Linked DNA regions of Homo sapiens: region 1 is linked to region 2. The links come from fine-mapping of genetic effects on gene expression. A gene starts in region 2. The other region holds a variant in brackets. All regions are shown on one strand. Distances are between the middles of the regions.

Evidence for each region. PIP is the estimated chance that this variant, and not a neighbour inherited with it, causes the effect. A credible set is the group of variants that fine-mapping cannot tell apart.
Region 1: its variant is the best candidate, but not a certain one, in a credible set for the expression of LINC00511 in blood mononuclear cells (TOPMed, PIP 0.78).

Annotation. Positions count from the first base shown.
Region 1 is chr17:72,610,818-72,625,854 of GRCh38, forward strand. It overlaps LINC00511 (long intergenic non-protein coding RNA 511), which reads right to left. Exons shown (of 5, transcript NR_033876.1): 3 at 7,499-7,747. Among named protein-coding and RNA genes, the nearest start is that of LINC00511, 22 kb to the right of the region's middle. The variant C/T (reference allele first, on the strand shown) is at 7,631.
Region 2 is chr17:72,634,377-72,649,413 of GRCh38, forward strand. It overlaps LINC00511 (long intergenic non-protein coding RNA 511), which reads right to left and starts at 6,096. Exons shown (of 5, transcript NR_033876.1): 1 at 5,995-6,096; 2 at 4,371-4,474. LOC105371887 (a long non-coding RNA gene) reads left to right here and starts at 6,299. Exons shown (of 4, transcript XR_934961.3): 1 at 6,299-6,342; 2 at 6,547-6,717; 3 at 8,252-8,453; 4 at 9,325-10,089. It overlaps SLC39A11 (solute carrier family 39 member 11), which reads right to left. Exons shown (of 10, transcript NM_139177.4): 8 at 14,794-14,892; 9 at 14,427-14,585; 10 at 11,573-13,286. The coding sequence ends at 13,208. It overlaps LOC107985005 (a long non-coding RNA gene), which reads left to right. Exons shown (of 3, transcript XR_001752991.2): 2 at 186-327; 3 at 835-1,304.

The DNA.
Region 1 (15,037 bases), 24 kb before region 2:
ATTTATCACCTTTAGAAGCAGATTTCTCTGATGTATACTATGCACCCAGCACTGTACAGAAGAGAATTCTGAGCAGGAGAATTGGACCTTTTCCAGTATACTGAGACTTCTTCCAAAACTTAAGAAAATGTTTAGCTGGAAGATAGTCTGTGTCAGTCTGTTTTAAAATACAGGCATGCACACTGTGCCATGATGGCTTTCCCATCTCAGTAGTAGACTCTGCTTATCATGTCCATCAACAATCAGAAAATAATGATTTGTTCCTACATCAACACTGCAGTTACTCAGTTCATATATTTGTTTATTGAACTGAGAGCTTCTATTAAATTGTGAATATATCAAATAGTGTTTGTTGAGCTGAGAGTCTCTTTATGTGATAAGTTTGTTTCTAAAACTAATTGCTGCTTTAGAATACCTATAATGCAAATTATTCCGCCTGGTACCCGCTCCTCCTTTGAGAACAACGCTTCCCACCTCGTCCCACGGTTCTGGCAGGAGCAGCTCTGTTGGTGCATGGCCTTCTTCCTCCCCTTGGCTACAGTTGACGGGTCCAAGGATGGGCATCTGACTTTAGCTAATCCAATCAGAGTCCTGCCTTGAGATTTGGCTGACTAGAACCGAATAAGGGAAGCTCGCCCTCAGTGAAAGCTGCAAGATGTAAAAGTCAAGGGCAAGAGGGTGCTCATGTTTCCTCCCAAATGAAGAAAGCAGATCTGTAAAGAGAGAGAAGAAAGCTCCGTGCAGAGAAAACTCATTCCACACATGCCCAGAAGATGGACTATATTCTTTCTGTCCTTCCGGTTGATATTTCATTCTTTCTTGATTGTTGTTGTTGCTTTGTTTTGACATAATCCTTCCAATAAATACCTTGGGATCCATGCTAGTCCCACTTGGGGATCTACTCCTTGCAGCTCCCAATCCATGCATTAAGAGGTCATGATAAAGACAGTCACAGCTGGCCGGGCACAGTGGCCCACGCCTGTAATCCCAGCACTTTGGGAGGCCGAGGCAGGTGGATCACCTGAGGTCAGACTGGCCAACATAGTGAAACCCTGTCTCTACTAAAAATACAAAAATAACTGGGCATGGTGGCAGGTGACTGTAATCCCAGCTACTTGGGAGGCTGAGGCAGGAGAATTGCTTGAACCCAGGAGGCAGAGGTTGCAGCGAGCTGAGATCACCCCATTGCACTCCAGCCTGGCCGACAAGTGTGAAACTCAGTCTCAAAAAACAAAACATGACCGGGCGCGGTGGCTCACGCCTGTAATCCCAGCACTTTGGGAGGCTGAGGCGGGTGGATCATGAGGTCGGGAGATCGAGACCATCCTGGCTAACATGGTGAAACCCCATCTCTACTAAAAATAAAAAAAAAAAAATTAGCTGGGCATGGTAGCGGGTCCCTGTAGTCCCAGCTACTCAGGAGGCTGAGGCAGGAGAATGGCGTGAACCTGGGAGGCGGAGCTTGCAGTGAGCCGAGATCACGCCACTGCACTCCAGCCTGGGCAACTGAGCAAGACTCTGTCTCAAAACAAAACAAAACAAAACAAAACAAAACACAAAGACAGTCACAGCAACTACTGAGACGGGAAAGCTATCATGGCATGGTGTGCATGCCTGTATTTTAAAACAGACAGATACTTACAGACTATCTTCCGGCTAAACATTTTCCTAAGTTTTGGAAGAAGTCTCAATAAATTGGAACAAGTCTCAATTTTCCTGCTCAGAATTCTCTGATGCTCAGATGATGATGGTTCAATTGGAGGTAGCTCACCAGGGCAAACGGCCTGCTTCTGCACTGCCAGAGGAACGAAGGTGGAAGCCGCTCAAAAAGAGGAGCTTCAGTTGGAGCAACTCACCTCAGCACTAAAAGAAAGATGTGAAGTCCCCTGGGGAAGTCAGAAGCCGACAAAGGATGACAGAGAAAACTCCAGAAATGTTAAAGAGAAAGAGATCAACAACTGGTACATTAATAATCTGAATGATAGAAGAAACCTAGAAAATTTGCAAACTGCTTCAGTTGATGAAACTTTTCTCAATTGTAATAATTATTTGTCCATTCCATTATTATAAGGCCTCTGTTTGAGCAGAAATACCATGCATAAAAGAAGAGAAAAAGGATTTGTTCTGTGTGTCTTTTTTTTTGGAGACAGAGTCTTACTCTGTTGCCCAGGCTGGAGTGCAGTGGCGTGATTGGGCTAACTGCAACCTCCACCTCCCAGGATGAAGCAACTCTCCTGCCTCAGCCTCCTGAGTAGCTGGGACTACAGGCATGCACCACCACGTCCAGCTAATTTGTGTATTTTTAGTAGAGCTGAGGTTTCAACATGTTGGCCAGGCTGGTCTCGAACTCCTGACCTCAAGTGATCTGCCTACCTTGGCCTCCCAAAGGGCTGGGATTACAGGCGTGAGCCACCGTGCCCGGCCCTGTGTGACTTTTGACTCCAGTTTTTGGATGAATCAGGGTCCTAACAGGATACAAACAGCACAACCACTTTGGGGGACTGAAAAGAGCTTAAGACAGAGATGATGTATTATGGGATGGGCAGAGTTCAAGGAACCAACAAGGGAGAGTGCAGGTTCATGGGGCCAGCAGTGGTGGGAAGGCATGACCCCCACCCTCTGAAGTCAGACGGGGCAAGGAGAGCAGAATGTTTCCAGAACCCAGAGACAGCAGCTGCGGAGAAAGGACAGCCTGCCAGAAACTGAGGCTACTTTCCTTCCACCCTCTAATCTTCTGCTATTCGCTCCACTTGCTGAACTCAGCTGGAATCCAGTGGCCAAGGGAGCCTGCTGATGCAATCCCTACAAGGGCAGCTCTTGGGGCACAGATCAGGGGTGAAATGGAGACAAGATCTGGATGGGCAAAGGAAGGAGATCCAGCTCACGTTTCAAGGGTGAGTTTCCACTCTCGTGCCAGCGTTAGAGGGGGATGCTAGGGAGAGACAGCGCCCCTGACATCCCCCCCAGCTCTAGACCTCTGTTGCCACTTGGCTTTCAGACATCTGTCCCTCGGTGCCTCTCAGATCTAGCACATCCAAACCAGACCACTGATCCTGCTACTCAGTTCTGAACCATTCTTGGACCTCCTGATGATGTGTCATGCTATTTTTCCAGATTTCTCTTCCTGGCCACCCAGGCTTAAAGCCTCAGGGCTACCTCCACTGTGCCCTCTTCGACATGTGGTCAGTTGCTACCCCCTCCCTCCACAATCCTACACTCCACCATCTTACCCATCCTGTCTTTTCTCATTTTCTTCCAACTAGACCGGTGGCATCTACTTCTAACTGTCATCTCTAATCTCTTCCCCTTTAAATGTACCCTACACACCACAGCCTGATTAATCTGTCTAAAACACAGCATGGATGGTGATTCATCTGCCCATGTCTCAACCAACCCAGCCCTTCCTTGTTCCCCAAATATGCCCCATGCTTGCCTGCCTTCATTTCTTGGCTAAAACCTTTCCTTTGCCTGGAGGAGGGGCTGCCCTTCATCTTTTTCTCCTGAAGCCAAGCTTTCTTTCATGCTCCCAAAATATTTTCATCTTCCCTCCTCCCCTCTCTCTAGATATTCTGCTTGTACCTTTCTTATGGCACATATTCCAGCTTAACTTATATTACCGTAATTCGGGGACATGGGTTCTTTCTTATTTTCCTTACCCCATTGCAAATTTGAGAGCCAGAGTCATGCCCTGTTCATTTCCGTAGTTGCCCCTGAGACCTAGCCAAACAGCTGGCACATAGTGGATGCTAAATCCCCATGCAGTGAATGAATGAATGTGGCTATCACTTAGGATATTTTCCAAAAGCCGTATGTACAATATATTTCTTGGCCTGTCTCTCTTGTCTACATAATGATACAAATCAAGGAAGGCCCTAACGAGTCCCATGTTGATTGTGGGGCATATGACTAATCCCGTAATACACTTGGACTGCTTTATGAAAGCACTTTTCAAACAGCTTTATAGCATATCTAGGCCACAAGGTTGGGAATAGATACCTAGAGATTTATTGGATCATTAAATGAACTAGGGAACAATAGGCATTGTGTTAATTTACACACACAGTGGGAGAGATCCAGGACACCTAAACCATCCCCATGTTAAAAATCAGCCCTCAGGCCCCATATAGTCTGCAACTCACCCAAAAGTACCCCCACGAGGTACACAGGAGCCTCTCCCCAGGCTCATGGAAACAGCAACAAAAGTCTTAAAGTCTTAAGTCCACCACAAAGATCTGATCGGTGTAGGTGGGGGAGGATGGGTGGTGGGAGAGAAGAGAGGAATTGTCAAAAGTGCAGTGATTTAGTGTCTGTCTCTTTCTTCCCTTCTCCCTCCCTCCCTCCCATCACCCTGCCTCCTGCACAAGGAACTATTGAGAAGGCACAGAACAAACGCTCCCTTATGCGGCTCCCACGGCGTCTCTCGGTTTGTCGGAGACAGCTGCCCAAAGCACGCTATGGTTACTCATTACCCGGGTTCCCAGGCAGGAAAAGGAGCAAACTTAATAGACTCGAACTAACCCTGAGCTCAAATACTCCAGCCATAAATAAATAAATAAGTCAGGTGTACCAGGGGAAGGGGAGGGAAGTGAACGGGGAATGGCTGGGGAGGGGTCGGCAGTGTAAGCGGACTGAGTGGGGCCGGGTTGCGGGGGCGGGGGTGGCGGTGAACACAACCCAAGAGTTTCTGAAAGGGGAGGGGAAGGATGGAGGGAGGGAGGAAAACTCTTTTCTCCCTTTGGAGGAAGGACAGAGGGTGTTTGTGTTGCTTGCTTGTCCCCGCCTGCAGAGTGGACGAGAGGCTCTCAGCTGGCCATCTGGGGACCTTGCGGAAAACTAGAACTTTGAGGGGAAAGGAAAGAAAGTCCTGTTTCTCCAGCGTGAGATGTGGCTGGGGTTTTGCTTTCCTCCTGACTCACAGAGTAAATGGTTTAGTTCATGGCCATCGAAGTGCCCATTGAACAGATGGGAAGGGCAAGGATGGAGAGAGAAGCAAAGGGACTGAGGGGCAGAGTGACTGTTGGCAGGAAGTCAGTCGTGCTCCAAAACTTTGAAGTCGTCTCTATGAGTGCTCCTCAACCCACACACTTTTGCCCCTCCCCCTACTCTGGAGACACTGGGCAACGTCTGGAGAGGTTTTTCATGGTCACAACTGGGAAGCCAGGGTGGTACTGGCATTTAGTTGGTAGAGGCCAGGATGCTACTCACCACGCTACAAGGCACAGGACAAAACCCTGTAATAAAGAATGATCCAGGCCGGGTGTGGTGGCTCATGCCTGTAATCCCAGCACTTTGGGAGGCCGAGATGGGTGGATCACCTGGATCACCTGAAGTCAGGAGTTCAAGACCCGCCTGATCAACATGGTGAAACCCCATCTCTACTAAAATTACAAAATTAGCCGGGTGTGGTGCCAGGCGCCTGTAATCCCGGGTACTCGGGAGGTGGAGACAGGAGAATCGCTTGAACCCAGGAGGTGGAGGTCGCAGTGAGCCATGATCCAGCCATTGCACTCCAGCCTGGGAAACAGAGCAAGACTCTGTCTCAAAATAATAATAATAATAAAGAATGATCCAGCCTCAAATGTCACAGTGCTGAGACTGAGAAATCCTGCTCAAGATGTAAGTCTCAGAACCCAACCTCCATCCCAGGCTGCCTCTAATTCTGCAGAGGGCATCTGTCAGTCCATAACAGGTCCATAAATTCACTCCTTCTTCCAGGGTGAAGAATGGAGAAAAATCAAAGAACAGCACATGCAACGATGCATTGGTGATCTCCTTCCTGCTAACCCTGTGGCCAAGAACACAAAGCAAACACGACCCCCAACAGAGAAGGCAGGGGAGGAGCCCACCAGTCAAACCAGCATTCCCTAGTCCCCGCCTGATCATTGAACAGACTTGAGGGGGCGCAGCATCTTTTACCTGGTCTCAGAATTTCTGCCAGTCTTGGCATGTTGGGGGCTTGGGAGGTTGCATTTTGGGTTTTGTTTTATGGCTTAATCTGGACCTCAATTCAGTCAAGTCAATGAGAGCAGGGACAGTCCCCAGTCACCATCTCAGGACCATGGCAAAATGTAATGAGCTTTTTCAGGAATTTAAAGTACTCACAGAAGGGCCTTCTGCAAAAATGAAGCATGACCCAATGAGTGTAGCCCAGCGCAGTGAGGGTGGACAACTTCAAGGCCATTGTTTTTCAGGGGGCTGTGGCAGCCAAGAGTTGCTGGGCCCTGTACAACCGTCAAAGTACTCCCAGGAATGCCACTGGTCTTTCCACAGTTGTCCAGGGGTGGAGAATCCACTGAGGGTCAATGACTCTGTTACAGTCATGTCAGTACCTTAAAGGTTTGTGGTGGGGGGCTGTGGAGGAGTTGGGGAGGGATTATATCTGTAGTGTGTGCGTGTATGTGATGTGCATGTGCATGTATGTAATGTGTGTGTAGATGTGTGTGATGTGCAATGTTTGTGCATATGCGTGTGCTTGTACCTGTATGTGATGTGTATGCATGGCATGTATGCATATATATAATGTGTGTGTGTACGTGTGTGCCTGTGTGTGTGTGTATGACACACCAGCTGATCAATGCCAGAACAAGAAGACCAAGGAAGATTCCAGAGATAAGACTGTCCTACATCTCTGATTGATGGGCATCTTTGAAGACGTAGGCTAGCATCTAGAGGCTTCGAGAGGAAGCTCTGCAATTTCAATTCCTGTCTCTGCTACTTCGGAGCTACGTTACCTTGGGCAAGATGTTTAATTTCAGCAAGACCCAGTTTTTCTCGTCTCTGTAGAGGGGCAATAAAAGGACCTACCTGTGGGTTTCAGGAATTAGTGAATTCATGGAAAGCACCTAGCACTGGGCACAGAGCAAGCACACAGATGTTGCCTGTTCCAATTATCACTGCTTCAGGAGACAGTTCTTCCTGGAGTCTAACCTAAGGCTGCCTGCCTCCTTCCCTGCCTCCGAGGGACTCCATTCCCCTGATCACCATCTCTGTGTGACACAGTCCTCTTGACTTTAGCTGCTTGTCTTTGGGAATGTCAAAACTCAACACTCCAGCTGTCCCCGGTTCATGTAGCCCAGCCAGGAAGGAACCGGGGGAGCTGATCACCAACTCTCAGCCTCACACGTACCTCGGGGACCCCAAAACATTTTCTGGTGGCCCAGCAGACTGAAAAAGTCTGGCTGGGGTTTTCCCCCTTTGTGCCTGCAGCCAATGCCAGCTGAGGCTTTCCCTCCTAATTCCCCAGATGCCTGACGGCGTTATTGCCACAATAAAGCAATGACAGTCCCCTATCAGCTCTCAATCAGCCTAGCCTGCCCTTCACAACCGGTTTGTCAGACCGCCCCGCCCTTCCTCGTTGTTAGCTCTCTGCTTGCTTATCTGCTGCTGGAGACAGAAGTCTCTGGTTTAATTGTGGCAAATTAATGATTGAACTCCACAGCCAACTCCTCCCCAAGTGCACGACAATCCCTCCCATTGAAGGCGCCAAGAAGGAACTCACTGTCATCGCCGAGACCAGAGTCAGCGGGTGAAGGCAGCGACCAGTTCTGGAACCACATTCAGTCCCACACCCAAGCAGCTGAGCGAAACTCTTCCTCCTCCACGAGGCCTCTCCCAGCCCTTCAGTTCATGA[C/T]GCCTTGGTGAGAGAGGTCTGTATAGCAACACGGCTGCACTGAAGCTTCCTTTGTAGGTCGATCGATGGTGCTGTGCCACATAAATCACCAGCTTATTTCTCCTGGCATGTGAGCACCTATGCCCGATGAGAGCAGATACATAATCAGTGTTGAGTTAATGAAGGAGCACAGATGAGTCTCCTCTCCCGACTCAATCAATTTTATTGTATAATGGTGGCTATATATTTAATAACATGTAACTCACAGGCTCGGTTTCAAGCACTTCCTCCTAATAACTCTACGAGGTAGGTACTGTTGCCATCAACACCTGTTTTACAGATGAGGAAACTGAGGCACTGAGAGGTTAAGTTGCATGTGTAAGACTCTAATGAGTGGCAAACTAGGATTCAGACTCAGCGTCCACACACCTAAGCATCACAGTATACCCCACCCATGAGGATGCTACCCTTATATAAAATGGTAAAATGAAAACCTGGACTCTACCACCCAACTGAAGATCTAGAAGATGATCCATGCCTCACTCTGACTTTCTTTTTCTTTTTTTTTTTGAGACGGAGTCTTGCTCAGTAACCCAGGCTGGAGTGCAGTGGCGCGATCTCAGCTGACTGCAAGTTCCACCTCCCGGGTTCACGCCATTCTCCTGCCTCAGCTTCCCGAGTACCTGGGACTACAGGCGCCTGCCACCACGCCCGGCCAATTTTTTTGTATTTTTAGTAGAGATGGGGTTTCACCATGTTAGCCAGGATGGTCTCAATCTCCTGACCTCATGATCCTCTCGCCTCGGCCTCCCAAAGTACTGTGATTATAGGCACAAGCCACTGCACCTGGCCACTCTGACTTTCTTTATGCAGTCCTTCAGGTTGCCCTTCTTCTTCTTCTTCTTTTTTTTTTTTGAGATGGAGTCTCGCTTTGTTGCCCAGGCTGGAGTGCAGTGGCACGATCTTGGTGCACTGCAACCTCCGCCTCCCAGGTTCAAGCAATTCTCCTGCCTTAGCCTCCCGAGTAGCTGAGACTACAGGTGCGTGCCACCATGCCTGGCTAATCTTTTTATTTTTTAGTACAGATGGGCCAGGCTGGTCTCAAACTCCTGACCTCAGTGCTGGGATTACAGCTGTGAGCCACCACACCCGGCCTCAGTTGCCCTTCTCTCTTCTCCCCAGAACAACAAACACGCTGAATTTTATTACTCCCTTTATTTTCACTGTGGTTTTAATACATATGTACATGTCCCCAAATAACATGCTTAGCTTTATTTCTGAACTTCATAAAAATATATTTATGTTATATGGAGTCTGCAACTTCCCTACCCTGAAGTCACGAACATGTTTTTCTATATTTTCCTCCCTGCTCCTCCAGTGTTCTCTCTCTGCCTCGGCACTCCTAGGTATGACCTAAGCTATTTTAATTTGTATTTAAGGATATATTCTTTGCCAAATGTTATAGAGTTTACAAAATAGCTCCTTGTCCATCTCTTTCAGCACATAATCCCCACTCCTTTCTTTTTCTAACAATCTGGAAGGCTCTACAATGATGGCACCCATGTTTGACAAAGGGTTTCTGGGCACTTCTGAACAGCCTGGGAATGTATTAATAGTTGGGAACTGAGATCAATATGTCTTAGATGTTTCATGGCCTAAGGGACAACAGCACGGTATTGTGATGAGGCTAAGAACAGGCTTTGGAGTCAGGCGTTCCTAGGGTTGAATCCCTCGTGTCAATCAGCTGTTGACACAAGACTGTTGCAAACAAATGACTGGAACACTCAGTGGCTTAAAACAAGGGATATTTCATCCTGCATTTGCAGTCCTGCAAGGCTGACTGTGGTTCTGTGATCTACAATGGACTCAATGTGCAGCTTAGCTTGAGTATGCCTATTGACGGAGCTTGGATCCCAAGCCATGGGTTGGTATCCATTATCTACTGCTGTATAACTACCCCAAAACTTAGTACCTTAAACAACAATTACGATTTCTTTCTCATGATTCTTTGGGTTGCCTGGGCTGATCTGCTGATCTTGCCTGGGTTCGCTCATGTGGGTAGGGTCCAAGACAACCTCACCTGTGCAGCAGTTTGGTGCTGGTTACCCACTGGGGCTCTTCCATTCTCTTCCACGTGGCTTCTTCTCAAGCAAGCTAAACAGACTTCCTCACAATATGGTGGACCCAGGGTTCCAAAAGGGTGGGAGTCCAACATGCAAGATCTCTCAAGGGTTAGGCTCCAGAACCCACACCCTTTGCTTCTGCCACATTCTATTGGCCAAAGCAAGCCACAAGGCAGCCCCCAGGTGTGGGATGGTAGAGAAATAGACTCCCGCTCTTGATGACACAAGTGGCAACGTCACACTGCAAAGGGCCATGAATTGAGGTCCGTGTGATTCCTTGGTTGGTGGGGGGCAGCGCAGGGAGGTGATTAACACAGTCTAGCACATTCGGGCCCTAGTCGACTCATGTTTTTTCTCAAGCCAAGACTGAAGGGCCTGTTGTAACCTGGGACACACACTTCTTCAGGTGACCACAGGAGCCCAAACCAAGCCAAAGTGCACAAGTACCTGGCAGCTAGTACTCCTGGTGTGGTTGCTAACATTCCATCAGCCAAAGCACATCACACGGCCAAGGCCAACACCACGGTGCAAGGATAGCAGGAAAGGGTGTGTGTGTGTGTGTGTGTGTGTGTGTGTGTGTGTGTGTGTGTGTGTGTATAAAACCAAAAAATAAACCAAGCTATCATAGCCCCACTGTAAATTCTCATTCATAGTTGACCCATCAAAAACATGGGTTGTTTTAAGGCAAAGTGACCAATTCATCCCTATTTGCTTGGGACTTTGTTGGATTTAGTACTGAAAGTCTCATATCCCAAGAAACCTCTCAAACCTGGGCAAATAGGGATGGTTTATCTTCCCTATTTTGAGTACTAAAGGAGATCCTCCCAATGGCTGCCAGCCAGATATCATCATTATGACTAGCCCCACTCTGCAGAAGAGAAAAGCAACTTTTCAGTGGCTGTAGAGACAGTAGGTGGAGTAGCCAATATTCAAACCTGACCCTATTGAAGCAGCTCTCTCCTATCATATGTTTCTCATGCCTGTTGCCTCCAAAGTCCTTCTCATTTGAGGTCTCCCTGGTCTTTATTTTTTTTGTATTAAAACAATTTATCTTGTTTTGAGACTGGGTCTTGCTCTGTTACCCAGGCTGGAGGGCAGTGGCATGATCTTGGCTCACTTGCAACCTCTACCTCTTGGCCTCCAGTGATCCTCCCACTTCAGCCTCCTGAGTAGCTGGGACTCCAGGTGTGTGCTACCATGCCTGGCTAATCTTTTGTATTTTTAGTAGAGATGGAGTTTTGCTATGTTGCCCAGGCTGGTCTCAAATTCCTGGACTCAAGTGATCTACCCACCTTGACCTCCCAAAGTGCTGGGATTATAGGCATGAGCCACCATGCCCAGCCTAAAACAAAATGTTTTAATTGGCAAATAATAATTGTACATATTCCTGGGGTCCATGGTGATGTTTCCACACATATAATGTATAGTGATCAGATCAGGGTAATTAGTGTATCCATCATCTCAAACAGTGATCATTTCTTTCTGTCAGGAACATTCACTATCCTTCCAGCTATTTGAAACTATATATTACTGTTAACTATAGACATTCTACAGTGCTATAGAAGACTAGAATATATTCCTCCTATCTAGCTGTCATTTTTTATGGATTTCAACAAACCTCTATAAAGGGGAATGAGTTTCTCTCTGTAAAGGGAGAAACCAAGTCCCAGAGAAGTTAAGGGGGACATCTGCCAATGAGGTATATGGAATACTGGGGCCAGCCTGAAACAAAGGGTAGACACAGGAAACAGAGGGGCTAACCCGTAACCAGGAGGAGGCCCTGAGAGCCAGGGAGGAGGATGCTGCCTGGGCTTGGGCTGGGCTTGGCTGAGAATGGCTGAACCTCAGCACTAAGCCTCTCCCATCTCCCATGACTTAAGCTTTGGGAAATGGCCCATGAGATCTGACCCTCTAGAGTTGGATTCCAATCCTGAACTGGGCTCTAACTCACTCACTGTGTGGCCCAGGGCAAGCTGTTCAACCTCCCTGGGCCTCCATTTCTCTGTTTATGGATGACCTGCCTGACTTTCCAAGAATCACTGGGAAACGGAGCCTTGGAGTTCCCTAGAGAAAGGAGGTGTCATAGTAGGCTATCTGGCCATCTTGCAGGTGAACCCCAAAAGAGTGGCTTGGTAGTTTTTTCTCAAAGAAATTCCACAAAGAGGAGGTATGTTGTAATGGAAGAGTATTGGATTTGGCATCAGAACACCAGGTTCCAGTCCTGATTTGCTATTTAAAAGTCACCCATCATCTCAAAGCTACGGTCTTGCTTGAGTGTGAATCACAATTCTTGCCTTGTACAGGAGGATCAAATCAGGCAGGAATGCAACCACATCAGTCACCTGGAAGGAACGCAGGCATCCGCAGAGGAGGGGGTGAGGTGTGGAGTCTCTGCCCGAACATCGGTTAAGTGGTGAGTGAATTGACTGGGATGAAACTGATGAGGATGGTAGTAACGATGCTCTAAAGCACCCGAGTTTTCCCCCAGTTCCCTCAGGGAAGCCCCACTCTGAGACCTGGGACCGCCACTCCCAAATCCCTGTCCCAGATTCTTTCCTTTTCCGAGGGCATCTAGAGGACAAGCACCTTCTGATCGGAATGTTTTCCAAATACTCAACATCTGGAAGGAGCTGTTACAAAGGCCCCCTTTGTGTAGCCGGGAAATGGGCTGGCAATAAAACAGGGCCAGACCCTGCCGAGCTGGGAATGGCAGTGGGGAGAGGGTGGGTGAGAGGAGCAGCGCGGAACAGGCTGGGAGGAGGACCTGTGAGAGCAAGGTCTCCGAGAGGGGTGTCCGGGCAGCATGGGACAATGGAGAGTGACCATTGCATATCCAGCGCTTTCTATGTGCTTTCTCTGTAGTGTCTTATTTATGTAAAAGAAAGTTTCAGCAGTGGTCACAGTGAGGGGGGAAGATGTATCTGAAGCGTGGTGGGAAAGATGGAAGAATTCACTCAACAGTATAACATTTTTCAGGTCTTGACAGAGAAGGCAGAAAAACCTTCCCTGCTGGAGTGTTAAAAGGTGACAACGCCCCAACCCTGTTTCTAACCTGCATCATTCCCCCACTTCCTTAGAGCCATGTGCTCAGAAAGCAGGTCCAGGTGCCCTTGCAGGAGCCTCCTGTCCCTTTGTTCCAGCAGGTGTCTGTGAGTCTGTGTGCACGCCCTTGGGGGCTTATGGGACCTATAAGAACAGATGATTCTTCCCGTCTGTTCTGCCACAACCAAGCAACGCTCTGCCCTTCCTTGTATGCCCCCTGGCCCCAAGGCAGTCTGAAAACACAAGGGAGTTCTCTTGATGGAAACTTCTTGGGAGACTGCAGGCCTGCTATGCAAAAGTCGCTTCCCAAAAGCCAGAAAGCCATATGCTGTTTATTTCCAAAAGTATCTGGAAATCAATTCAGGCAGCTCTTGCAGAATTTCAGAATCTCGGGGCTGGAACGAATCTCAGGAGCCCGATTGCAAATGGGCAGTGGATGGACCACCTGCTTTAGACTCCACGAGGGGGCTTGTTAAACATGCAGAGTCCTAGGCTGAGCCCTGGAACCACCTGGTGAGCGGGGATGGGGAGTTGGAATCCAGAAATCTGCATTTGGTAAGCTCTATGAGTGATTTTTCATTCAAGTGTGAGAAGTATTGATCCAAATCCTGACCCAGCCTCCAGGACAGCAGCACTTGCTAAGGTGAGACACACGGCTGTTTTTTTCCATTCTTAAACATATCTAAGGCTGCATGCATTTCCCTCAGCATTCAGAAAGGCTTTCTCAACTTTCTTTTTTTATATCTAATCTTAGCTTTCTGAGCATCCTCCTTGCATAATTTATTGAGCACAGACTATCTACTGGGTGAGTTCATTGCATATTGCCTTTTTACTATTCATGGCATCCTTTGAGTCACATACAGTTGGAGGCAGCTGGAGAGGGAGGGGAAAATAAGAAGAAAGGAAGTCGTCGGAAAAGAAGGGAAAGGCAGAGATGAGGAAGACCTTCCCTTATCTCCTGCCTTTGGGAACAATAAGCTGACTTCTTGGTGTGTCCTGGTCCTTTTTACAACTGGAGCAGATAGAGTGTTATTGAAACTCAGAACTGCCACATTTGGAAAAACTAAATTCTACTTTTGTTTTTCCAGACTTCCCAGGCCATATTACATCTTTCTGACCAGTTGGATGCTATAGGAAGTCAGCTCAGATGCTTCTAGGAAACCTTAGGCTTTTGTGAGAAAAAGAAGGCATGCAGCTGGTACTAGCCTCCCCTCTTCTTCCAGCATTGGACAGTGCATTCATTTTCTAGGGCTGTCCTAACAAATTACCACCCTCTGGTGGCTTAAAGCAAGAGGATCTTATTATCTCAGAGTTCTGGAGGCTAGAAGTTTAAAACCAAGGTGTCAGTGGGGCCATACTCCCTCCAAAGCCTCTAGGAGAGAAATTTCCTTGCCTCTTCCAGCTCCTGGTGCTTCCTGGCTGATATGGTTTGGCTTTGTCCCCACTCAAATCTCATCTTGAATTATAGCTCCCATAATTCCCACGTGCTGTGGGAGGGACCAAGTGGGAGGTAACTGAATCACATGAACAGGTTTTTTCTGTGCTGGTCTTGTGATAGTGAACATGTCTCATGAGATCTGATGGTTTTATAAAGGGGAGTTCCCCTGCACTTGCTCTCCTGCTGCTGCCATGTAAGACGTGACTTTGCTCCTCATTCACCTTCTGCCATAACTGTGAGGACTCCCTAGACATGTGGAACTGTGAGTTGATTCAGTTGATTGAACTTCTTTCCTTTATAAATTACCCAGTCTCTTCTTTCCTTTATAAATTACCCAATTTATTAGCAGCGTAAGAACAGATGAATACACTGGTATTCCCTGGCTTGGGACAACATCATTCCAATCTCTGCTTCTGTCTTCATATGGCCTTTTCCTCCCTGTCGTTGTGTGTCCTTCTCTGTCTCTTATAAGGACACAATCACTGAAGCTCACTCTAATCCCATATGATCTCATCTCAATCCTTAACTACCTCTGAAAAGATTCTATAAGGTCACATTCTGAGGTTCCAGGTGGACATGGATTTTGGTGGAGGACACTATCCAACCCACCACAGATAGGGACATTGTATTAGTCCATTCTCATGCTGCTATAAGGATATACCCAAGACTGGGTAATTTATAAAGGAATAGGTTTAACTGATTCACAGTTCTGCAGGGCTGGGGAGGCCTCAGGAAACTTGCAATCATGACGGAAGGGGAAGCGAACACATCCTTCTTCACATGGAGGCAGGAGAGAGAAGAATGAGTGTGAGCGAAGGGGAAGCC
Region 2 (15,037 bases):
ATCTACTTAATCTTTTCCTCTGGCTAGTTTGGTTCTTAGCAGGTTGTGTTGGTTGAGATTAAGATTAGAGATGTAATATCAAAACCACCAGTTCAGAACCTGAATTGTAACAGACACATCCATCTGCAGAGATGCTCTTTCCTTCTGATTGGCAAGATTGTAACCTACTTCTCAATTGATTTCAGCATCGAACACCCGGGGCTGGCTCAATTCCTTTCTACACCTGCCAAGAAAATCTAAGTGGATAATGATGCTGACCAATCAATGGGCCGTGGGCAACACAGGAAATCAGTGGGCCCGCAAAAAGCTGGGCACCACGTGTTACGGGTAATATTCTCAGGGCCCAAAATGGGTGGCACCAGCCTCCCTGACCAGTCAAAGGAGGCAGGAAATGGAAGCTGAGCTCACGGTGGGAGGAAGCTGGGTGTGGGTGGTGGTGGCAGCCCTGGGAAGAGAAGGGTGTGTTTCTGAGGGCGCCTTGTGCCCTACCTGTTTGCTGCAGCTTTCCAAACCACAAAGCCCTGCCTGCAGCTCCCTGCCAAGGCTGATCATAATCTGCCATGCTATCGGCATTGTCATCTCTTATACAGATGCACATTGAGTGCCTCTAATTCTGAGGATGATCCCCTGAGGAATCTTGCCTTTTCCCAGCGCCATGCTGCTTGTCCATCCAGGCACGTGGCAGCAACACCACCATAGGGATGCCCAGGATGCCAAGCTGCATGCCCGCTACCTCCCCTCCCTCCTGCTTCCTCAGCCCACCTCTTCTACCCCAACCCTGAGCCTCAGAAGGAGGCCGAACCATCTGCCCGTTTTCATTCTTGTCTTTTGCAGTTGGGAAATGAATCTTCAGTGACAGAGCCCACAGAGGAAAACACCCAAACCTGACCCTCCCTTTAACCTTGCGAGCGCTATCACTCAGCCAGATACCACCACTGTTTCCCGAGGACTAAGAGAGATGGCTCTTTGCCTGGTGGAGCTGTGAGGAAGATGATGGGAAACGGGCATGCTGGCATCGGAGTTTTTCTGGATTGGAAAAAGAGGATTTTACTTTTCAGCACCTGCCAGCATGATAGGTTTGCCAAGAATTCTACACTAAACAAACACACACGCCTACATCACCCCTCCTCCCAAGCAGGCATAACCCACTGGGGAAGGAAACAGCTCAGGAAGGCGGATGGCAGGGGTTCGTGAACCTTGCTAGTTTCCAGGGCACGATCCATTTTAATCTCCGCCAGAGGACTTAAAAATCTATTCTGTCAATATCTCCCTTATTAGTAAAGTTTGGGTCCCAAAGCAAGAAAACTAAGGCTTAATTTTGACTTAGAAGATTGTTGTTGTTGTTTTATTATAAGTTTTGATTATGTAGTATGTGTGTGTATATATGTTATTCACTACATACATATTTATGTATTTTTAATATATTTTATATTTTAATATAACATATAATACATATTATATATTATATAATATGTAATTATATATTAAAATATATAATTATACATATATTTTAATACATAAAGTATATTTTAATGTATATATAAATTATACACATGTATATTCAAATGTGTATATCAATATTTATGTATATATTTAGATTTGAAAGCCTTGGGGGACATGTAGGTCCATATCCTCTTGTAGATATCGTAGTGGGATCCTGGCTTTTGGTTATCGTCTCCCCCAAGTCTCCTATTCCCTTTCCGTCCCATTTTTTTCTTGCAAAGAACAAGCAATGACTGAGGCTTTCATAGCCATTGTCACAGAATAGGTCCTGTGGGGAGTTGATTTGTAAAAAGTTCCTGGACCAAAATAAAGGTGGTGACCAAAATGAAGTCATCTCTGCCACCTCCCAGTGGGTATCGATGTGGAAACGGTAACTTGAATCTGAAGCTTCTTTGTGCCCAGCCCCACTGTGCTGATGAGAGCAGACAGGGTGGGAGAGAAAGGGGCACACAGAGTGGACATGTGGATGCCGTTCCTCAAGCCCTTGAAGAAACCAAGAGTTGGCCGCAGCCCTGACCCAGAGTTCTGGGAGATGGGTCCGTGGTAACCCCGCAAGGGAGAAGAGGGCAAGAAGGCCAGGATTCCCAGGGCTCATCCAGAACAGCCCATCCGTCCAGATGGGTATCCTTGATTCCAGTACCTTCCCTGCTCACACATCTCTTTCATCCATTCATTGTACCACTCTGAAGTGTAGAATATGCAAAAGAGAGAATAAAATCATATCATCGCCACATGTAGTTTGCTGTGTCATGCTTATCCTGGTGGATGAAAAAGAGGCCCACGAACCTATGGAAGCCATTCTTGCCACCTGGGTTTATGAGCCAATAGACCATGGCAGAGGTGATGGGATGTCATGGCCATGCTTATGCTATATTACATAAGACCCTCACTTACTAGCTGACTCAGTCGAGGGGCTCTCCTTGCTGGTTTGATCAGTAAGCAGCCATGCTGGGAAAAACCCATGTCCCTAGGAGCTGAAGGAAGCCTCTAGCTCACAGCCAGCAAGAAGCAGGGTCCCTAAACCCATACCTGCCAGAACTGAATACTGCCAGCAATGGGAGTGAGTTTGGGAGCAGATTCCTCCCCACTTGAGCCCCTGGAGGAGACTATAGTTAGGCCAACCCCTTGATTGCAGCTTGTGAGACCCTGAACAGACGCCCAGTTAAAACTGTGTCCAGATTTCTAACCGAGAGAAACTGAAATAATCACGTGTTGTTTTAATCTGCTAGATTCGTGGTAGTTTGTCACACACAAATAGAAAATGAATACAACGACCGTCTCCCACCAACTTACCAAATATGATAAATGTTCACATGGAAGAAATGTACAGACTCATACATCATCTATTCAAGTGCAGTCCTTTGTTTTTTAACCGTGTTACAGGCTTGTTAGGAACTGAAAAAAATTACATTTTTTTTTTTTGAGACAGTCTCACTGTGTTGCCCAGGCTGGGGTACTCTGGTGTAATCTTGGCTCACTGCAACCTCTGCCTCCCAGGTTCAAGTGATTCTCCTGCCTCTCACTCTAGCCTCCCAAGTAGCTGGGACTACAGGTGCGCAACACCACACCCGGCTGATTTTTTGTGTTTTTAGTAGAGATGGGGTTTCACCATGTTGGCCAGGCTGATCAGGAGCTTCTGACCTCATGAGATCCACCCACCTTGGCCTTCCAAAGTGCTGTGATTATAGGCGTGAGCCACCACTCCTGGCCAAAAATTTACATTTCTATACTTTCACATAATAAGTTCAGTAAGCATTTTCATTGAAACAGCAGAAAGGGAGCTGGTTCTAATTGAAGACAAACTTTGAAAAGATTTAAATTTTACTAATCTTAAATCAGTTCATTGTTGTTTTCCATGGGACACACTCCAGGGCATGGTGGTGACCAATGCAGTCTGCAAACCCAAGTGCACATTGAACCCGACCCTAAAAGGCAAAGGTCAGAGAAAGGGTACACCTCTGACCTCCTTCCTGCACAACTACAAAGTGGAACCCAAGCTTTGGCTAAGGGCCTCCCCTCTTTGCGTGCTCCCCAGGCTTGCCCCACGTTTCCACTTTTCCCTGATGCATCCTGGGCTTCTTGGAGGTCATGGTGAGAGACAGGACTAGCTGGACTTCCTAGGCCGACTAAGAATTCCTAAACCTAGCTGGGGAAGGTGACCGCACCCACCTTTAAACATGGGGCTTGTAACTCAGCTCACACCCGACCAATCAGGTAGTAAAGAGGGCTCACTAAAATACAAATTAGGCTAAAAGCAGGAGGTAAAGAAATACTCAAATCATATATTGCCTGAGAGCACCGGGGGAGGGACGATGATAGGGATATAAACCCAGGCATTCGAGCAGGGAGAGGCAACCCCCTTTGGGTCCCCTCCCTTGTATGGGAGCTCTGTTTTCATGCTATTAAATCTTGCAACTGCACACTCTTCTGGTCTGTGTTTGTTACGGCTCGAGTTGAGCTTTCACTCGCCGTCCACCACTGCTGTTTGCCACTGTCGTAGACCCACTGCTGACTTCCACCCCTCCAGATCCAGCAGGGTGTCCGCTGTGCTCCTGATCCAGTGAGGCGCCCATTGCCACTCCCGTTCGGGCTAGAGGCTTACCACTGTTCCTGCGTGGCTAAGTGTCCGGGTTCGTCCTAATCGAGCTGAACACTAGTCACTGGGTTCCATGGTTCTCTTCCATGACCCACGGCTTCTAATAGAGCTATAACACTCACCGCATGGCCCAACGTTCCATTCCTTGGAATCGGTGACGCCAAGAACCTCAGGTCGGAGAACAAAAGGCTTGCCGCCATCTCGGGAGCTGCCTGCCCCATCATGGGAGCGGCTCGCCACCATCTTGGGAGCTTTAAGGACAAAGACTCACCTGTAACAATGGCTCTTGTAATCAGTGAAGGGAGAGGCTAACTTGGCCTTAAACCCCACGGCTGGGTCCTCACCACGTCCAAACAGGCTGGATCTGCTCGCTCCCTGCCAGGAGGAGGGAGGCCAATGAGAAATGTATCATTGTGGCTCATAGTGCACCAGAGAATGGAGACTATATCAGAAAAGACCCCGCATGATTTCCAAGCTGATCTTTTAATCTGGGGGAGGATCACGGGCTGTGGGGATGCTGGGATACAGGTCCATAGGTTCACCCTCTACAAAGAATCACACATCTTTCCTTGGGCCACACAAAGCAGTTGCTCTTCTGTTACAGGAAAAGGGTCCTGATCCAGTCCCCAAGAGAGGGTTCTTGGATCTCCCGCAAGAATTCAAGGTGAGTCCAAAGTGCAAAGTGAAAGCAAGGTTATTAAGAAAGTAAAGGAATAAAAGAATGGCTACTCTGTAGACAGAGCAGCCCCAAGGGCTGCTGGTTGCCTATTTTTATGGTTATTTCTTGAAGATATGCTAAACAAGGGGTGGATTATTCATGCCTCTCCTTTCTAGACCATATAGGGTAACTTCCTGACATTGCAGTGGCATTTGTAAACTGTCATGGTGCTGGTGGGAGTGTAGCAGTGAGGATGACCAGAGGTCACTCTCGTGACCATTTTAGTTTTGGTGGGTTTTGGCCAGCTCCTTTACTGCAACCTGTTTTATCAGCAAGGTCTTTATGACCCATATTTTTGTGCTGACCTCCTATCTCATCCTGTGACTTAGAATGCCTTAACTGCCTGGATAGGCAGTCCAGTAAGTTTCAGCCTCATTTTACCCAGCTCCTATTTAAGATGGAGTTGTTCTGGTTCACATGCCTCTGACACTTCCAGCTCTTCCACCCACACACATCTTCCCTGTCTTGGGGCAGAGGGCAGTAGCCTCGTACCCTGAGGATTCTTGAAGGTCTGGGGTCCGAGCAGCTCCATCAGAAGCCCCATCGGGGACCTCTGAGGGGTCAGTGACAGTCCCTGGGGACAGACGGTGGCTCCCCAGGACGCTTTCCCTATTAAGCCACTGGCAGAGTCCAGACACTTTCACTGGGTTGAGAGCTAGAAGGTCAGAGAGCGGGAGAGAATCCAGAGGTAGGTTCAGGGTTACTGTTTTGCTCAGCCCTGGATGGCCAGGCCCAGCCTCCCGCATTCTACTGGAAGGAGGAGGAAGATGGGTTTAGTTCTTCCCAGGGCAGGAGAGAGAAGCACAATTGTGGGCTGGGTTCCTCCTGCCTCTGAACACAGCGCCATCCCTTCTCCCAGGTGCTGGGCTGGGGTGTGTGGAAGATGAAGGAAAAGTGAATTAACTAAATAGGGTTCCTGCAGTGTCTGGAAAGCCTCTAAACCCCCGAGCACCTCAGGCTTCCCTGCCCTGATTCAGAGGTGAGGTTACCTAAAAGCCAAGGAAGCCTGGGCTTCGGGGACCCTCACTCACAGGCCCCCTTCCAAAAAAGCCCTGCACCTAAGCTTGTACTGGGACTTCTGTATTATTTTTCCCAAAGGGCGCTCCCCACGTTGTATACACTTCCGGCCCCCAAATCTGGATCCACCCTGGGAAGGGACAAACTGGGGGCAGCCTACCCACATTCGGCCAGCGGGGGGTCCGACCGGCCTTGGTATCTCCAAGCGAGGTAACAGTAGTCGCCCCTTGCGTCCCTCCCCCTCCGGGGCGCATCGCCCCTTGCGTGCAAAGCCCCGGCACCGCCACGAGTCTCGCCTCGCCCTGCACAGGTAAACAGCCGCTGGCCGCCGGCCGGCCGCCCTGCAGGGCAGCCCGGGGACCTGCCCCCGGCGCCACGCCCGGCGCCCCGGGGAGGCCCAGCCCGCAGGCCCCGCCGACTGGGCGCCGCGCCCTGGGAACGTGCACCGGGGCAGGCAGCCCGGCCTCACCTGGCCCCAGCGCGGAGCCGGATCACACCTGCCTGCTGGGTGAGCCGAGGGCATTCGCGGAAGGGAAGAGACAAGACCTGGGAAGGGACGCCTGTGGCTTAGAAAGACCCTCAGGCAGGGCCGGGCGTGGGGCGCGCTGATAAAAATTCCTGGAGCTGTATTATTCACATCGCAGATTTGTCCCTTTGCCTCAATCTAAAAGGAATGGGAAAGAACAGCCGCTGGGCTCTCATTTGCTTCCAGCTTACACAGATTCAACTATCAATTATCCCAGAGGAGAGGCGTGCAGTGCAGGGCGTTGGGCCACGAAACTGAAAGCTGCTGGCGAGGCGCGTGGGGGAGGTCGATTTCTGCGTCCTGCTGCCTCCACGCACAGTGAGAACCCACCCCGCCACTGCGTTCCTGTCCTCACAGGTAAAGTCAGGATAATAATATCTACCTCACGGGGGATTCGAGGAAGTGGTGGGAGCGTAAAGCCCCGTCTGGTAGAGTGAATACCTGAGCAATGGCCTTCCGGTCCCGTCTTCAGCACAGCAGGACGAAAATGTCTTCTGTTGGGATCCCAGAGAAGATCCAGACGCTGACACCTGCCCCTACCTCTCTACTTCTCATCATACCGGTCACCTGGAAGAAGGGTCCATTCAAAGCAAAGCCTGTAGCCAATGAGTTGTTTCTGCCATCAAACAGTCAAGCATATGAGGCCCAATAGGCAGTCCTGTTTTTTTTGTGACAGAGTCTCACTCTGTCGCCAGGCTGGAGTACAGTGGCGTGATCTCGGCTCACTGCAACCTCCACCTCCCGGGTTAAAGTGATTCTCCTGCCTCAGCCTCCCGAGTAGCTGGGATTACAGATGCACGCCACCACGCCGGCTAATTTTTGTATTTTTAGTAGAGACGGGGTTTCACCATGTTGGCCAGGATGGTCTCGATCCACTGACATCGTGATCCGCCCGCCTCGGCCTCCCAACGTGCTGGGATTACAGATGCGCCGGCCAGGCAGTCCTGTTAAGCCATGCCACACAGCTTAAAAAAAGACACTGGCAAGCTCAAGTCCCGAAGTTACCAGCTGAAGGAAGAGACTTAAACCAAACCAAGGGCTTCCTATGACAGTTCTGAAATACCCTCTTCCCTCTTGAGTCCATACAACTGAGAAAATAGAACGGCCAGTCACCGTGGCTCGTGCCTGTAATTCTGGCACTTTGGTAGGCAGAGGCAGGCAGATCACCTGAGGTCAGGAGTTTGAGACCAGCCTGGCCAACATGGTGAAAGCCCGTCTCTACAAAAATACAAAAATTAGCCGGGCATGGTGGCGCATGCCTGTAGTCCCAGCTACTCGGGAGGCTGAGGCATGAGAATTGCTTGACCCGGGAGGCGGAGGTTGCAGTGAGCTGAGATCGTGCCACTGCACTCCAGCCTGGGTGACAGAGCGAGCCTCTGTCTCAAAAAGAAAAAACAACAACAAAAAGGGAAAACCAAAGGTAAAATTTGATCCACAGGACTGGCCACATTTCTACACTGGTAAAATCATGGCCTTGCTGAAGCATTGATCAGGAAGGGATAAGACCCAGAGAATCCAAATGGAGACAAATGAGAGGATTTGGAAAACCTGAAGTTCTCTGAATCACCCAGTCCTCAAAGAGCCTCCTTCGTCAGCGGAAACCCTCTTCTCCAGTCTTCTGACACACTTCGTAACGACACTGCCATTTCTTTGCATCCTTTGCAGTCTCACTGCAAGAGCAAGCCAGTTCTCATGCATTACCCTCGACTGTCTCCAGAATGGACAGTTAGATCCCAGCACTTCAGAAAGAAGGACAATGGCAAGCTCAAACCAGCGAGGATCAAGATTAGAAACCAACATGATTTTGGGATTTTCCTAACTAAGGGTGCTTAATAAATGGGTGGAAAGGTATCATTTTACACTGGTCTGATGTTGTTGATATACATTGCAGAGATTCTGGATTGACTGTGCTAGCAGGAGAAGCTGGGAGTGACTTCTGAGCTGGACTGACCACTGGACGCCAAGTGATTATCCCTAATGTATTACATGTCATTTGCAACCCAAGCTGTCCGTCATGTACTGGGCCATCTGACACACTCATAAAATCCCATTACCAACTGGAAATGGTTTATGTGGGACTAGCTCCTAACCAGGTACTGAAGGCACAAGTGCATTATATGCATAGGTAGATCATTCCCTGTGTGCCTACCCCTGACCCTTTCATCAATCTAACACCGGCCTCAAAGGGGTTTCCCAAGAGCTAGTGACTAAGAGAGGAAAAACCACTGATCCTCATTTACAGATAGCTTCACACCATATGCTTGCCTACCTTTTTTTTTTTTTTTTTGAGACGAAGTCTCGTTCTGTCGCCCAGGCTGGAGTTCAGTGGTGCGATCTCAGCTCCCTGCAACCCCTGCCTCCCGGGTTCCAGCAGTTCTCCTGCCTCAGCCTCCCGAGTAGTTGGGAATGCAGGTGGGTGCCACCACGCCCAGCTAATTTTTGGTATTTTTAGTTGAGACGGGGTTTCACTGTGTTAGCCAGGATGGTCTTTATCTTCTGGCCTCATGATCCGCCCACTTCGGCCTCCCTAAGTGCTGGGATCATAGGCGTGAGCCACTGCACCCGGCCCTACCTTCTAAATAGGTGACTGTGATGTTATAGTTCAGTGAGGATAGCAGGTGAGAGGGAGAACCTCCTGGGGAGGAGAATTTGAAGCACATAACTCTGTGTCCACTTTGCTTGGAAGCAAAGAAAATTTGATGCAAGAAGCTACACCAACTTCTGAGCAGTGTAGATGGGGGGTTCTGTTCAACAGGTCACAAACTTGAAAGAAGAATGACTGGAGGTTTAATGACAGAGGAGAGGTGTGGGAAGACATACATGGCTTCACTTCTCAGAATGGGCCAAATTTGAAAATGTTTGTTTCTTGAGTAAAACATCATCCAAAATACCCACTATAGCAAAAGCTAATAATAATTAATTGAACCAGGCCATCTGCTTATGTGTAATGATTTCTTTCTCCAGGCACATCATTGCTTCAACTGATTCATGAGCAGAAGAGTCTTTGCTGGCAACACATGAACTGTGATGGATTCAATCACTTAGGCTTTCCATTATCAATGCAGACCTGGCCCCTGGGTGCACAGGGTTATCAGTGACCACCCCTGAATGCCGCAACTGACCAGACTCCAGGGACACCATGGACTACTTAGTTGCAGACTGATGACTTTGGACCTCTTCCATTATGGAAAGGGCAGTGATTTCTTTTCACTGAAACAGGCTCATGTCTGACTTTGGAACTGACCTCTCTGCCTGTAGATCATCATGGCATGCTCTACAAAATTGCTTCTGACAACGGAATTCACTTTACAGTGAAAGAGGGAAAGCAGTGGGTGATACCCTTGTCAATGGATCCTGTCACCCAGAAGCAGTCATCTGTATTCAGCTGTGACATGATTTATTGAAGATTTCATTTCAGGACTGAGAGACGATCATACCTAAGGAGATTGAAATATCGTCCTTTAAGATGCTTGTTTGTTCTGAACTAGGGAACATCACGTGGTGCCGTTTCTCCCACAGCCAGACTAAACAGGTCTGGAGGAAGGGGAAGTAGGCACGGTGCAACTTCCATCTTACTTAATGACTCTCACTCTCTTCAACTTTTTTTCCACCAATTAGCGATTTTATTCCCAGGAAAGGAAGGTTGCACCATTGAGGCAGCTGACCGTTGGGGTGGCTCCCTTTGGAAAGGGGATATAAAGTGTTTGTATGAGTGATGGTTCCATTAAAGCAGACATTTTTTAAAAAGGTGAAATTTGGGGAATTAGAGTGAATATAGATGTTGAACAGAAAAAGAGTGATATAGCAATAGTCTGGACATGTGGGCTGGCCACCTGGAATTTCACATGCCATTAGGTCAAAAAAGTGGGTTGACAAGGCTGGCTGCAGTGACTAGTCCTGGGAAAATGCTGCTATACCACGGGAGACAGGCCAGGGTGGAGGCTATGAATGAAACTCAAGTGGTTCTCTCAGGAGCCGCCTCCTCCTCCTCCTCCAGCGGTGGGAGTTAAGGGAAGACTGTTACCATCATGCATATGGGCAGGGCCTCCTTGGTCTCTGTGCCCTTAGGAAAGAGGAATAGGGTCACGGCTAGTAGGTCACACCCCAGTCATCTAAGGTACTGGCTGAAGACAGCATGGACTTGGAATGGAAACTGGAAGCGGGAAACCTAAACATCATCCAGGGTCTCTTCTCTAGGGCAGGAAATGGGTGCTGTAGCTTCTACTTGTACTTCCTGTGTTGTGTGTATCCTATTTTAACTCATTGCCTCTCTTTCCTCTCCCGTTATTCGTTTTATTGTATATGGGATGAACGGTTATGGTTAACTTTACACTTCAGCTCAAAGATACAGAATAATGAGATGGGCTTGTTATCCCACGGAGGTGGGGTATCCATTACTCACAGACCTTGAGTACAGGAGTTGAAAGACATTGGGGTAACCCCGTTGGAAAGGGAATGAAAGAAGTTTTGATTGTATGAGGAATAGCTACATATTTTAAGCAAGAGTTTTTTCTTTAAGTAAAACTAGAGGAATTAGAGTATATGTTGATATTGAACAGCAAAAGAGTAAGGCTGTAATGAACTTAATAGACCCTTTTTTTTTTTTCTATTTTGGCTCTGCACCATATGAACTCATTCCCAAATTTGGAAAATCCACTATTTTGCGAGTCTTGGGAAGGGGCAAGATCAGCTAGTTCATGGGCACAGGATCTAAGCTCTGGCAGCTGGATGTTCTGATCTAGAACTTCGAATGTGGAGCCAGGACACAAAGAATCCAGCTCAGTGTAGAGTTTGTTCTTGTGGCGGCAGTGGTGGTGGCATCAAGGTACAGCAGTTTCATTAGTGGTGTCCAGGATCTAGGGACCAGCTCTGGGGACCATGGCATCTAAACCAAGCTGTTCTCCAGGTGTGATTGGGTCATGGCCCCAGACCTCTGGCTTTCTTGGATCCAACCCATTTTCAAGCCCGATTCTCCGAAAGAGCCTGTGAATTCCCTAACAGGCTTCCACTCATTTCCTTTTCTGTTTAAGTAAGCTGCTGTTGGATGCTGTTGTTGCAACCAAGAATCTGACTAGCCCTTCCCATCTGAGCTCTTTCCTTTGCCTCTCCTAGTGTTGGATCAGGGAGGTGTTAGTTCCAACTTTAGTTAGCTCTTTTATGATCATCCTTGCAAAGAAGCAGCTTTGAGAAGTACTGAACGTAACACAGGTCATCCACAACATCCCCTTTTTATTGATATTAATCACAGTTATGAGGTCTTGTCCATCAGAAAGCACAATTTGCATTATGTAGAACTACATACAAAGACATAAAAATAAAACATACATACACCAACCACCACACCAGTTAATCTCAACCAATCAAACCTCTGAATGTGTCTTCAATTTTGATCATCAGTGCTTCGGAAGAACGTACATAGACCCAGCCCAAGGTTGGCCTTTGGGGTCTGATAGCATTCACAGAGCAGGAGATTCACCCTTGGAAGCAATTGAATGTGTAAACTCTGAGAGCAGACACTGACAATGCAATGCCTGCATACCTGACTCCTGGGCTGCCTTCCTTCTCAGCAGAGCCCACTGAAAGTCTCACGTGTGCCTTTAACCAATGAGGATGGCAGGCCTTATCTGTGTTTGAAGTGGACAGGTCATTGCTACCCCTGTTGGAGAAGCTATGTAAGAAGGAGTAGGCTGGCTTCTGGTCTAGTTCGACTCATTCTTTATAGGGACATTTCAGAATGATGAGTTGGCTAAAATTTACTTTAAAGGGGAAATGTAAAATTACCTCTTCTTTTCCTATCCCCTTCTTCCTTTCCCATCCTGAGCCCTCTGGCAAGGCCTGTTGCAGCTCAAGAGTTTTTGTCAGATTATAAGTTACCAAATGGTCAACAGGGAAGGACCCACAGCAGATTCCAAAACTCTTTCATTCACTTGAGTTAACTGAAATGGCTCCTTCTTTGAGTAATTGAAGAGTTTGAGTTCTAGCAGTTTGCTGGTGTCTCCAAGTCTCTTAGAAACATGATGGCTATAAACTTATCAAAATAAATGCCTAAGAAATTTGGAAAGCGCGACAAATGGCCTTGCTCCTGGAATCCATTGACAGCAGAGGCCTCCGAACAAACCCACACTCTGTCTGTCTCTTCTTTCCACAGGGCTCACTGTGAGTTCACAGTTGTCCTCATCCCCTTTCCTTCAATAATGTCAATCTTTGCCTTTAAAAAAAAAAAAAAAAAAAGCCAGACTAGCCAATTTCCTTCCCTTTTTCTGTGTCCCCCTCCCATGTAGTATCTCCTTAGGGGGAGGTAAAGGAAGACATGCTCCTCTCTGGGCTGGCTCGGCCTTGGAAGGTAGCTTGCTATCTTTATGATGCTCCAGTTCCAACATTCTAGATGGGGAGAGGCTCAGCAGTGATGGAGCAGGAGGGGCGGATGAGAGGTGTGCTGGCCACTCTGCCCTGAGTCACTAGGCCACCAAAATGCTTAGGAGACGTCTTTTGGTAGCTCGCTTCTATAGGTGACCTTGAGGAGTTGGGAGGCAGATAGAAGGTCCCGAAGTGGAGATTTCCCTGATCTGAAGTTCCTTGATAATCCCACTGAAGAGAGAGTCCATTCAGTGGCCAAAACAAAGAATCTGTATTTCCATGACACCTTAAAATTCCCCATTAAATCAAAAATCTCCCTCAAAGCAAAGTAAAAATGGTTCTATTATAATCAGAGTCAATCAGGATAATGAGATGAAGAAGAGAGGAAGGAAAAAAGTTTTAATGTGAAGAAAGAAGCTTGTTGTCCCATAGAAGCCAACCACTGCTGTTTCTTCGTATGGCCTTTCCCGGGGTCCGAAGCGTCTCAGCCCTAGCCCAGGCCAACGTCCAGTGACATCATCACTACAAATCCCAGGATGGAGGCCCAGGATGCCAGTTTCCCATTACCACTGGAAGAGAAGGACAGGAAGAAAAGTAAGACCTTAATGATCCCTGAGGCCACGGCTAGGCTGAAGGCATCCTCTGCAATGTCCAATTCCAAGAGAAAGCACACTACCATTAATAATGGTAACATTTACTGGGGCTTACTATGTGCCAGGCAAACTAATGAACCATGGAACCCCAAACAACAACCTCATGAGGTCAGTATCATAATTATCCTCATTTTACTGGTGGGGAAACTGAGGCAAAGAGAAGTTACTTGCCCAAGGTCACCTATGATCGTTCTGTGGTCCATGTGTGAGTAATGAAGAGGGGTGATTATTTCTTAAAGATATTACTTAATCTGGCCTTTTAAACTAGCCTCAGAGTTATTCTTCTATAAAAACCAAAATAGGCTGGGAGCAGTGGCTCAAGCCTGTAATCCCAGCACTTTGAGAGGCCGAGGCAGGCAGATCACCTGAGGTCAGGAGTTTGAGACCAGCCTGGCTAACATGGCGAAACCCCGTCTCTACTATAAATACAAAAATTAGCTGGGCGTAGTGGTGGTTGCCTGTAGTCCCAGCTACTTGGGAGGCTGAGGCATGAGAATCACTTGAACCTGGGGGGCGGAGGTTGCAGTGAGCCGAGATCACACCACTGCACTCCAGCCTGGGTGACAGAGCGAGACTCTGCCATTAAAAAAAAAAAAAAAAAGAAAAACAAAACAAAACAAAACAACAACAAAATGGAACAAAGCAAACCCTTACTCCCACCTTCTGACACCTGGCCTATAGCTAGCCAGTGAAGACATGCATGTATCACCTTCACTGACATTTTAGAGCTCACCTCTCCCTTCATTCCAGCCCGAGAATCGAGAGACAGGATGAGAGAGAATATACAAAAACGATAGTCTACTGCATCAAGGGACGGGGGGCAGGTGTGTATGCCACTGCCTGGTGTCACCTCATTTCTTGACCCACATGCCCTTAGCTTCTTTTCTTTTAGTTTCAGAGAGCACAGTTGAGGAGGCAGTGGGGATGATCTTGGGAAGGGGCAGAGAGGGGGAGGGAATAAGGAAAGGAAAGGCAAATGAAGAAAGAGCATATCCCAAGGCTGGGGTCCCAGCTGGGACTGGGACAGGGACAGACAGGGAGGGAAGGTTCTCCAACCTGATCTGGGCTTCGGGGATGATGTCGTCCATGACCACGTAGACCATGGCACCGGCAGCAAAGGCCAGAGCGTAGGGCAGGATGGGCTCAGCCAGCACCACGGCAAAGGCACCAAAGACCCCGGCCAGGGGCTCCACCATGCCGCTCAGCTGCCCATACCTAAGGAGAGAACAGAGACATTTACCACCGCAGGGGGAGGCAAGCAGACACTCCACGTGCCCAGACTGTTGGCTCAACCCTAGCACATGGATGCATGCCATTCTACGTCATATCTGAGCATGGCAGTGCAAAAGCACATCACTGTTTTGTTGAAAGAAGCCCACATGGAGGATGCTGTGACATGGCCTTGCCCTTGGGCAGCACTCACCAGAAAGCTCTCCAGGTGGAGAAGCCTGCCCCTCGCAAGGGAAGGCTGACAGCCAGGCCCTCGGGGAAATTCTGGATCCCGATTCCAATGGCCAAATTCCTGAAAAACCAAGAAAGCACATGAAGGCTGCTGTCTGGAATAGGTGCTCACACAATGGGAGTCCCTGGCCGAGGCCAAGACCTCCGTGGGTGCTAGGAAGCCAGGAGGAGACCTGTGACCTGCAGTAGGAGAGGAAGGAGAAAGG